Linked DNA regions of Homo sapiens: region 2 is linked to region 1. The links come from fine-mapping of genetic effects on gene expression. Tissue or cell type: lung. Region 1 holds a variant in brackets; the other region holds the start of a gene. All regions are shown on one strand. Distances are from middle to middle.

Region 1 (5,000 bases):
TTTTGAGAAATGTCTGTTCATATCCTTTGCCCACTTTTTGATGGGGTTGCTTGTTTTTCTGTTGTAAATTTGTTTAAGTTCCCTGTAGATTCTGGATATTAGCCCTTTGTCAGATAGATAGATTACAAACATTGTCTCCCATTCTGTAGGTTGCCTGTTTACTCTGATGATAGTTTCTTTTGCTGAGCAGAAGCTCTTTAGTTTAATTAGATCCCATTTGTCAATTTTGGTTTTTGTTGCAATTGTTTTTGGTGTTTTAGTCATGAAGTCTTTGCCCATGCTTATGTCCTGAATGGTATTGCATAGGTTTTCTTCTAGGGTTTTTATGGTTTTAGGTTTTACATTTAAGTCTTTAATCCATCTTGAGTTAATTTTTGTATAAGGTATAAGGAAGGGGTCCAGTTTCTGTTTTCTGCATATGGCTTGCCGGTTTTCCCATCACCATTTATTAAACAGGAAATCCTTTCCCCATTGCTTTTCTGAGCCCAGGAATTTGAGGCTGTAGTATACACTGATTAGACCTATGAATAATCACTGCTCTCCAGCCTGGGCAACAAGACAGACCCTGTCCCTAAAAAATAAAAATAAATAAATAAATAAAAGTGGTGTTTTAATAATTTCAGACGGCAAAATATCCAACTGGATGAAAGTTAATGAAACTCTCCTGGTGGAACATCACTAGAGCACATAAATAAGTGACAGCTGTGAAAAGTTTGGTTTCAACAGTAGGCTGGGCATTAGGACTCTATTGGGGTTGTTCATTTTAAGTTGTCACATTGTTTTGAGGGGAGGGGTGGGAGAGGGGGAGCTGTTTTGGTTTTTAGATATTCATGGGTCAATTACGTGCCAGGCTCTGTGTGACATGTCTTTCAGTCCACCCTAACAGTGAACTTACGTCTTCCTCCTTGTCCTCTAATATGAAAAAGCAGAACAAGTGTGTCTGCATCACATAAGACTTTTTTAAAAAGATGGTTTAGGAGAGCAACGACCCTTATATTTTGCTCTCTTTTATCTTTAGAAATTGCCTGTGTTCTACCTGTACTGATGGATGGCATACAGAGTCACCCCCAAAAACCTTTCTACACAGTTGGTGAGAAGGTGACTGTTTCCTGTTCAGGTGGCATGTCCTTAGAAGGTCCTTCAGCATTTCTCTGTGGCTCCAGCCTTAAGTGGAGTCCTGAGATGAAGAATGCCCGCTGTGTACAAAAAGGTGAGTGGCTTCCATGTCTATCCAAGGACACTTGTACCCAGGCAAGTGAGAGTCCTTGTGGCGACCTTCATGGTACTGTATCACCATAGCTGTGAGTCATTCCCTCCATTCTTGCTCCTTAAGATAGGGTCAGTTTGTAGACTGAGTAACAGATTTTCTTCACATGGCACAGAAAGACTCATGAAAGCAAGGAAAGGCAAGGATAGCCTGGTGATTCTGAAACTTTTAACTTAAATCATCCTTGTGAAAGATTAGCTTTATATCTGTTATGGTGCCAAGACAATAAAGGATTTTTAAAATCTGTTTTTTGTTTGTTTGTTTGTTTCCTCTAGATTTTTTTCCCCTGCATTTTTCATAAGTACAGAGTTGAGATCATAATTTATTTAAAGTTCTGTATGTTTCATTTTTGGGCTTTCAAAGAGTTTATCAGTATTTCTGAAATTGAAAATTTAGAAAGCATTTTCATTTAACACTTTAAAGCAGACATTATTGAAGGAAAAGTGTTGTGATTCATGAAATTGTTCTTAATGTGGAAACCCAAAAATCCAGTATTTTAACACCAAGAAAATTAAAATGGTCTTTTAAGAACCTAAGGTAGAAAGGATTTAGAAAGCCAAATTATTTCTTTTTAGAGGTAATTTTAGATGAGATAGATTTGTTTGACAATAACCCCTTATTTATTCTTTGTTTACATTTTTTAAATAAATGGAAAATATTGTATTTGTAACAAAAATGAGAATGAAGAAAAACTCACTTGCATACTATTTTATGTGATATTATCTCTCTAGTATGTGATTTTTAATTAAACGCTGAAATTTATTTTTAATAGTGAGGATGAAGTACTAGATTTCACAGGTGATGGTGTGAGGTGAATTAGATGTTTCTAACTAAGTTCTCCATGCGACAGGGTATGGAGCACTCAGATACTGATGGTAGATATGGGCTGTGATGTGAAGTGGATGAGAGGCAGAACAATAGGCAAGACACACGTCCTTGGAGTGCCCTCCCTGCCTGTCCTGATGTGCTGTTAAGTTATCAAAGCTCCATCTCAGAGGACAGTTGTTTTGTGTTCTGTAAACACTGAAGTATAAACATGAGTTTACTTGGAATATTTAAAGTCATGGACCAGTACTTACAATTCTAAAAATGAAAGAGAACAATATACAGTTGATGAGGTTGCACTTTTGGTTCAAATGAGATTGTAGACTAGTCTGTCTAAAATGCTACTTCAGCTATTTTACAGCACAGTTTGGTATGAAGTTTCATTTACCCAGTAGAAAATTCTATTAAAGTGGGTTTTAATTAAGGATGTTTTTCAGATCTGTGTGTTTTTCTGAAGATGTGAATAACAGTAACTACTTCTA[A/G]GCCTATAACAAACAAAAAAATCCAAGACTTACCAGCTTCCAAAGTTGATGTTTTAAAATGTTGGCTGTTCTAGTATTTAGTCTTTTTTTTTATTATAATAAAGCATACATAACATAACATTTACCATTTTATCCATTTTTAAATGTATGTTCAGTGGCATTAAGTAATTCCCATTGTTGTGCAACCATCACCACATTTTTTTTCATCTTTCCAAACTGAAGCTCTATATCCATTAAACATTAATTCCTCACTTTCCCCTACTGTCCCCGTAGTTAGTCTTGATGGGAATAAATTTGCTTTTAAAATAGCAAAAGCACATACTTTCGGTGGGCCTTAAGAGTGTGTTTACTTGGTTAACCAAGCTGTAAAGGCAACAAAGCTATGTTCTTCTTAAATGCAAAAATTCTTTGGGCTAGGTAATTCTATCGTTTTTTTTTTTTTCCACAAAGACATTATAATACATTTTTTTTTTTTGAGATGCAGTCTCGTTCTGTCACCCAGGCTGGAGTGCAGCGGCACAATCTCAGCTCACTGCAAGTTCTGCCTCCCGGGTTCACACCATTCTCCTGCCTCAGCCTCCTGAGTAGCTGGGACTACAGGTGCTCGCCACCATGCCCGGCTAATTTTTTTTTGTATTTTTAGCAGAGACGGGGTTTCACCATGTTAGTCAGGATGGTCCCGATCTCCTGACCTCATGATCCGCCCGCCTCGGCCTCCCAAAGTACTGGGATTACAGGCGTGAGCCACTGCGCCCGGCTTGACATTATAATAGTTTAAGCAAACTTTTAAAATCTAAAATTTCAGGATTTGTCCTAAAGTAAATTTTTAACCACAGTGCAGAACTAATTTACATGGCTTGATCATTGACCTTAAGTTTTGGTACATCTAGATTAAGGCTTCTCAACCTCAACGCTATTGGAATTTTAGGTCTAATAATTCTTTGCTATGGGAGCCTCTTCTGTGCATTGCAGGGTGCTTAGCAGCATCCCTGGTCTCTACCCAACAGTAGCATCCTCCTATGTCAATAACATTCTGCAGTTGTAAAAACCAAAGATGTCCCTAGTGATTTCCAGATGTCCCCTGGGGGACAAAACTGCCCCTGGTTGAGAAGCACTGATGTAGATAATACCATTTTTAAAAAATTTCATTTTGGAATAATTTTAGATTTCAGCAAAGTCACAGATATAATTTCTACACACCCTTCACCCATCTTCCTTAATATTAACATCTTACATAACACAACTTGGTTAAAACTAAAAAATTAATATTAGTACAATGCTATTGACTAAACTATACACTTTATTCAAATACCTCATGTTTTACCACTAATGTCTCTTTTATGTTCTAGGGTCCAGTTCAGGGTACTACGTTGCATTTAGGATAATACCATTTTAAAGAGAAGTGTGCTTTTTTTTTTTTTTTGAGACAAGGTCTCGCTTGTCCAGGCTGGCTGGAGTGCAACGGCGCAATCTTGGTTCACTGCAACCTCCACCACCCGGGCTCAAGCAATTCTCCTGCCTCAGCCTCCTGAGGAGCTGAGATTACAGGCATGTGCCACCATGCCCGGCTAATTTTTGTATTTTTAGTAGAGACAGGGTTTCACCATGTTGGCTAGGCTGGTCGTGAACTCCTGACCTCAAGTGATCTGCCTGCCTCGGCCTCCCAAAGTGCTGAGATTACGGGCGTGAGCCACCGCGCCCAGCCAAGAGAAGTGTTTTAATAATGAATCTTGTTATTGAGACTGCTGACCATGGCAGGCATACTTCACATTGCCATCATTTTTACAGGTTTATGAATGCTCACAAGATTGTAATGTCATGTCCAAGGCTCTTGAATTTTCCAAAGTAAGGAAGTATTTCATAGTTTGTGTATTCATAAAAACATATTCTCCAGATAAACTACCTTTATAGATATAGTAAATGACTATCTAGTTTTATGATGCAAAAGTGTATGGCAATGAATTTCATTGTAATAAAGCTATTACGAGGTGAAAAAAGTCAGGATGTTTTTAGATCATTCCCATTGCAATCAGGGATAGCTGAGGGGATGGCAGTCACATTATGCTCTTGTAAGTTGGACCACGGTGTTTACCTGTCAAAACTGAAATGATGACTGAATTGTCAGTTTCTATAAAACACAAAGTTATAGAAAGAATTTTATTAACGTAATGACCTCCAGACATTTATTCACTGTTGAGGGAGACCACTTAGACATTCATATGTAAGAGGTTATTGTAGATCTTCTCGGCACACCAGGGAGTTCTCCATGTATAAGGCAAGTGATGTTGCTGCTTTTTGCCTCATTATGGGCACAGCAGGCAGAATGCAGTCCAAACAACAAACAGTTTATAAGCACCAGCTTCTTGAAAGGGAGCCACTTTATTGTCCTTGGATTCAGACCAATGTAGAATTAAATGCTGCCTGGG
Region 2 (5,000 bases), 97 kb after region 1:
TAGCTGGCACCTTAACCTCTTGGTTATGCTGGCTATTATTATTCTTTAACTAGACTCATCATAAAATAACTAGGAAGTGCTTGTTAAAAATATATATTCTCTGATCCCTTTACTGGAAATTCTCCTTCAATGTTTCTGGGATCCGGAGGTTATTCTCTTAAGTGATTCCCAATGTTTGAGAAATAGTGTTCTTTCGGAAAGGTGACTTCTACTGAGAGATTAATGTAATGGTTTTCAACCGTACCTAAATGTTTGGATTACCTCCAGGTGCTTAAAATGCCCAAGCTTTTCACAGACTGATCCAATCAGAATCCCTGGTAGTAGGGCCTGGGTGTTGATATTTTCCCAAAACTCTCTAAGGGATTCTAATATATGGTCAGGGTTGAGAACCACTGAATTAAGAGATAAAGGTATAGGCACTGCCCTTCACAAGGAGACAACACTGAATAATGATTAGGAACATTTTTTTTTGGAGTCAGATGGGCTTGCTTTTGGATATAGTCCTGTTGTTCTTAGTTGAGCAAGTCATGTAACTTCTCTCTGCCTAATTTTTTCTCAGTTATCAAATGGAAATAGCAATAACTACCTGATAAAATTGTTCTGAGGAGTGAATATTATACAATACACTGTTGTTTGGAAAATATCTAGCATTTTACTTCCCAGATAAGTGTTCGATGAAGGGCAGTTATTTCTTTTATTTTATAAAAGGTTGTTGAAATGTGAAAAGCCTTCAATTCTTAGGTAAACTTCTAGCTGTGAAATAGCATTATAGATGAGCAGGGAAGAGCTTTTGGGATTTTTGTAACAACCCTCAAATTATAAAAGAAACAGTCTCATCCACATGTTTGTAAGTCTGACATACACCTTTCAACATCTGCCTGTATAAAGTTATAAAAAGGAACTTTTTTTTTGCTATTTTCTAGACATAGATGCTGTGATTCTTGAAATGCCAAATATCATTGCTTAAACATTACAATGACTTTCATTACAACTGCATTTACTGAAAAATCTAATGCCATGTAACAAGCCAGAGAAAAATGAGAAAGTTGAGACAAAGAAAAATATATACGAAATGTTGCAACAAGAAGACTGAAAAAGGGAAAAAGATTTTTCTCTGTTTTCCCTACCTTGTTAACAATATCTTCCTTGTTCAGCATGCCAAGAGTGAGGTTAATATCCCCAAACATCTCTAAAACGTACAGAAAAATATGAATTGAAATATATGCTGAAATGCCCTCCTGTTAATTATTTTGTAATCAACACAGAAAGTTCATTCATTCATTTATCCTCTCTCTCTCTCTCTCCCTTGACTGCTAGCTCTTTGATGGCAGGAACTGTTTTATTCATATCCATGACATAAATGAAACTAGCAGATGCTAAGTTATTATTATTTTTGAAACCTGAATCAAATGTGAAAGGGAAGATAAAAGATGCCGGATTCCTATGTATCCCTCCAGGCAAGTGGGCATTGCCTTGTAAATTCTCTCTTGCAGGATTTAGCTCTCAGAGTCAATGAGGTGAATTTCTCACTCCTGACTTAAGCATTAGAAGGCAGGGGTGCAACATAGCTGTTTATTTTTCACTGGTCCTCCCCTCAATACCTCTCCCATCTTCTTTTTCCATACCCTTTTCAACTCCACCTATTCTCCTGTGCCTGCCAACTCCCTCTTTTGGTCACATGCTAATGAAGGCTTCCTGTTTTCTGACAATGACCTAAATGTGTTTGACTTGCATTTTCTAGGAATATATGTTTTTGAATAAAGCACTCTAGAAAACTGGAAAAAAAATTGAGTCAAAGGAATTGAGCAATTTCAAGCTACATGGCAAGTTGGTAGGAGAAATACTTTTGGAGATGAAGATTTCTTATTAACCTCCACACCAAACAACATACTCATTTAGGGCAATCTTTTTGGCAAAGTAGAAAGGCAGCCATACCTGGAAATTGGGAGAAATACTTCCAAAGGACTCTTCTAGTATTTAAAATTAAATAACAAACTGCCTTTCTTTGATATGTAGCCACTTTCTCCTCAGGTAGACTCTAAATTTTAAAGCACAACCATCTCTTAGGCTTCCAGTCTATTATTGGTCCTTCACAATCAGCATGATTTTATTATGTATTTAGCATACCATTTCATAAATCCTTTGAGGTGTACAGTCCTCCCACAATGACGCGCCACTCCCAGCCCTCATATATACTTATAATTCCACAGAAACAAAACACAGGGAAGAGCCTTGGCTTCTCAGGATCTGATGATGCTTACCTATGGATTCCTCTGTACTAAGTGTCATGTCTTGGCTGTTTCAGGGTCTCTAAAAGATAGCACCTAAGTATTAGAAATAGTAAGGCTAAAAAATCAAAGAGGCAGGTTGGCAAGTTTCTCATATAAGGTTCACATAAGCCTCTCTAAATGAAAGTGCCTCCTCCACTTGATTGGCACAATGGTCTGGGAGCTTCCAGAGATGGGCTTGCTGTTGAAGTTGATACTGTATTCTACCACTATGACATTGTCTTGCGTCTGAACTCCTGCTAACCAACAAAATGGCTGCATCTCACCAAATATTGTCCCTTTGGTGACCAGAGTATTTGGGAAAGAAGTAATTAGAGACTGGGATTCAAACCATTGTTGCAGACCAAAGGTGCTCCTCTCCCTAAACTTGAGTCCATTGATCACAAATTCAGGAATGGTTTTCAGTAGTTGCTTTACTGTCCTGATGTTGGGAAAGGCTTTATGGTGAACTCGTTGATTGTTACACTTAGTGAAAATCAGTCATATGAACTGAGCATGCTCAGTGGACTGGAATGCACTTCAGGGGCAGTTGGATGGAATGTCCAACTGACAGCAGCAAAGTGAAGACCTCTCTACCTCCCTCTCCATTAATTCCTCCCTGGCATGTTCAGGATCTTGGCCTCACTCCAGGCTCAGGCTTTTTCTCTGTCTTCAGCTTTCTTTTTGTTTTCAAATTATTTTTTATCTAGATCAATTTTCCATAATGTTTTCAACTTATCTAGCATGAATTGAAATCTGGTCCCCAACTATAAATCTATGTGATGACAATCTTCAATATATGTCCAGACTCTATGTGAATATGGAGGATGATAGAGAAAGGGAAGGCAGTACTGCTAGTCTATAGGGCTAAATGTAGAATGGGCTGAGGAGGGGAGCTCATGACAATTTTCATCTGCTGCTGCTTTTTTGGCCATCTTAACTTCATCGGTGAAGCTTATTCCAGATTCAAAGGTCAACTGCTTCCAACTAAACCTTTGAATTCATCATTCTTCTCATAGACATTTTGCACTGTATTAAAGAGATCCTCAACATTTTCCGCTTCCCAAGTCAGCATCACTTTCAGAGTTTTGTCTCCAGGTGACTTTATCATGGGATTTACTTGGTATCCTTATTTAAAATGTGAATTCCCAGGCCCCACTTCAGACCCAGTAAATTAGAATGAGGGGGCAGCAATCTATATATTTAATGTGCGCCCCTGGTGATTCTTAGGTTCACTGAACTTTGAAAAGCACTGACCAAGGTCCTTGCCCAAACATTCATTAGTGGATCAGTAAATAGCAGTTAACTGAAGAATGTTTGTTGTGGTTGGGCAAGGAGCTCTTCCCCAGCATCATGACTCACTGAAGAATAGGCCAAGTTTGGTTAGTCAGGGAGGTACTGGGGTGATTAGAGGCATCCCGAAACTCTTAACATCTATAAGATGTTAAGTCTACTTGTAGTAAATAAAACAACAGATTCCCTATAAGGGAAAAAATGATGTTAGAAATTATGTGCTCTTAGAGTCTTAAAAAACAATGTACAGCAGAATCAATAATAAGAAAGCTAGCCATTTAGGTAATTGTTACAACCATTTTCTTAATATTTTTGTGAATGGTGACAAATGATTTTTCTGTATGTCTGTATATAAAGACTTCCTTGATTTCATAGAGATTAGAGAAGTTAGGAGATAATTGATTTATTTTGACTTTTAATTTATTCATCGCTGCAATCAAAACACAACTTTTTGCTAAAATCCTTTCAGACAAAGTAAATTCACTCATTGAAACCAATACTGCAGATAGTTTTAAAATCCCCAAATCCTCAAAATAGCTGATTTGCTGTCATTTTATTTCATTTTTCAGTCGCCTGCTTGTTACATCTTCCCATTATTTCTTCCTCTTCTCATTGCATGAGGCTAACACAATATGGATTTGATTTCTCTAAGACTCTAAGAGGATCCTAAACACGAATTCTCAAAGTGAATAGGATGGCATGTGCTAACTAATTAAGTACTGTTTCTAGATATTTGTGAGGGAGCCTAAATCTAGCCTGCTAAGGAATTAGAGTGTCTCACTGGATATGTGGTAGCCATCCCCTTTCAATGTAACTTGTCAAATGAAGCTACCCAATCCCAGGCCTACTATGTTCCCACATGATGTTATCAGACAAAAATATTAATAAGGCAGTAAAGGTAAAATATAAAGCTAAAGAAGAATAGATACATAGAAATAATACAGAAACGTTATAAAAATTTAAATTTTATGGTTTTAATAGTTTAATTGTAGATGATTTTAATGTATACTACAATTAATCTAAACTTTGATATTTATCCTTTTATTCTTCAGATGACGTGTTAGATTTTTATAAAATATATTAAAAGTGAAATTAGGCTGTGTTTTGTTTGATTTGTCAGTTTCATGAGATAAGCCTAATTTCTTTTTTAAAAATTTTATTATTATTATACTTTAAGTTCTAGGGTACATGTGCACAACGTGCAGTTTTGTTACATATGTATACATGTGCCATGTTTGTGTGCTGCACCCATTAACTCGTCATTTAGCATTAGGTATATCTCCTAATGCTATCCTTTCCCACTCCCCCCACCCCCCAACAGTCCTCAGTGTGTGATGTTCCCCTTCCTTTGTCCATGTGTTCTCATTGTTCAATTCCCACCTATGAGTGAGAACATGCGGTGTTTGGTTTTTTGTCCTTGCGATAGTTTGCTGAGAATGA

What was found. PIP is the estimated chance that this variant, and not a neighbour inherited with it, causes the effect.
Region 2: it holds the start of MROH2B, and the variant in region 1 is the best candidate, but not a certain one, in a credible set for the expression of MROH2B in lung (GTEx, PIP 0.69).

The regions. Positions count from the first base shown.
Region 1 is chr5:40,971,385-40,976,384 of GRCh38, forward strand. It overlaps C7 (complement C7), which reads left to right. Exons shown (of 18, transcript NM_000587.4): 15 at 1,019-1,210. Among named protein-coding and RNA genes, the nearest start is that of C7, 64 kb to the left of the region's middle. The variant A/G (reference allele first, on the strand shown) is at 2,575.
Region 2 is chr5:41,068,564-41,073,563 of GRCh38, forward strand. MROH2B (maestro heat like repeat family member 2B) reads right to left here and starts at 2,779. Exons shown (of 42, transcript NM_173489.5): 1 at 2,262-2,779; 2 at 1,128-1,189. The coding sequence starts at 2,289. LOC105374739 (a long non-coding RNA gene) reads left to right here and starts at 2,794. Exons shown (of 6, transcript XR_001742650.2): 1 at 2,794-3,365.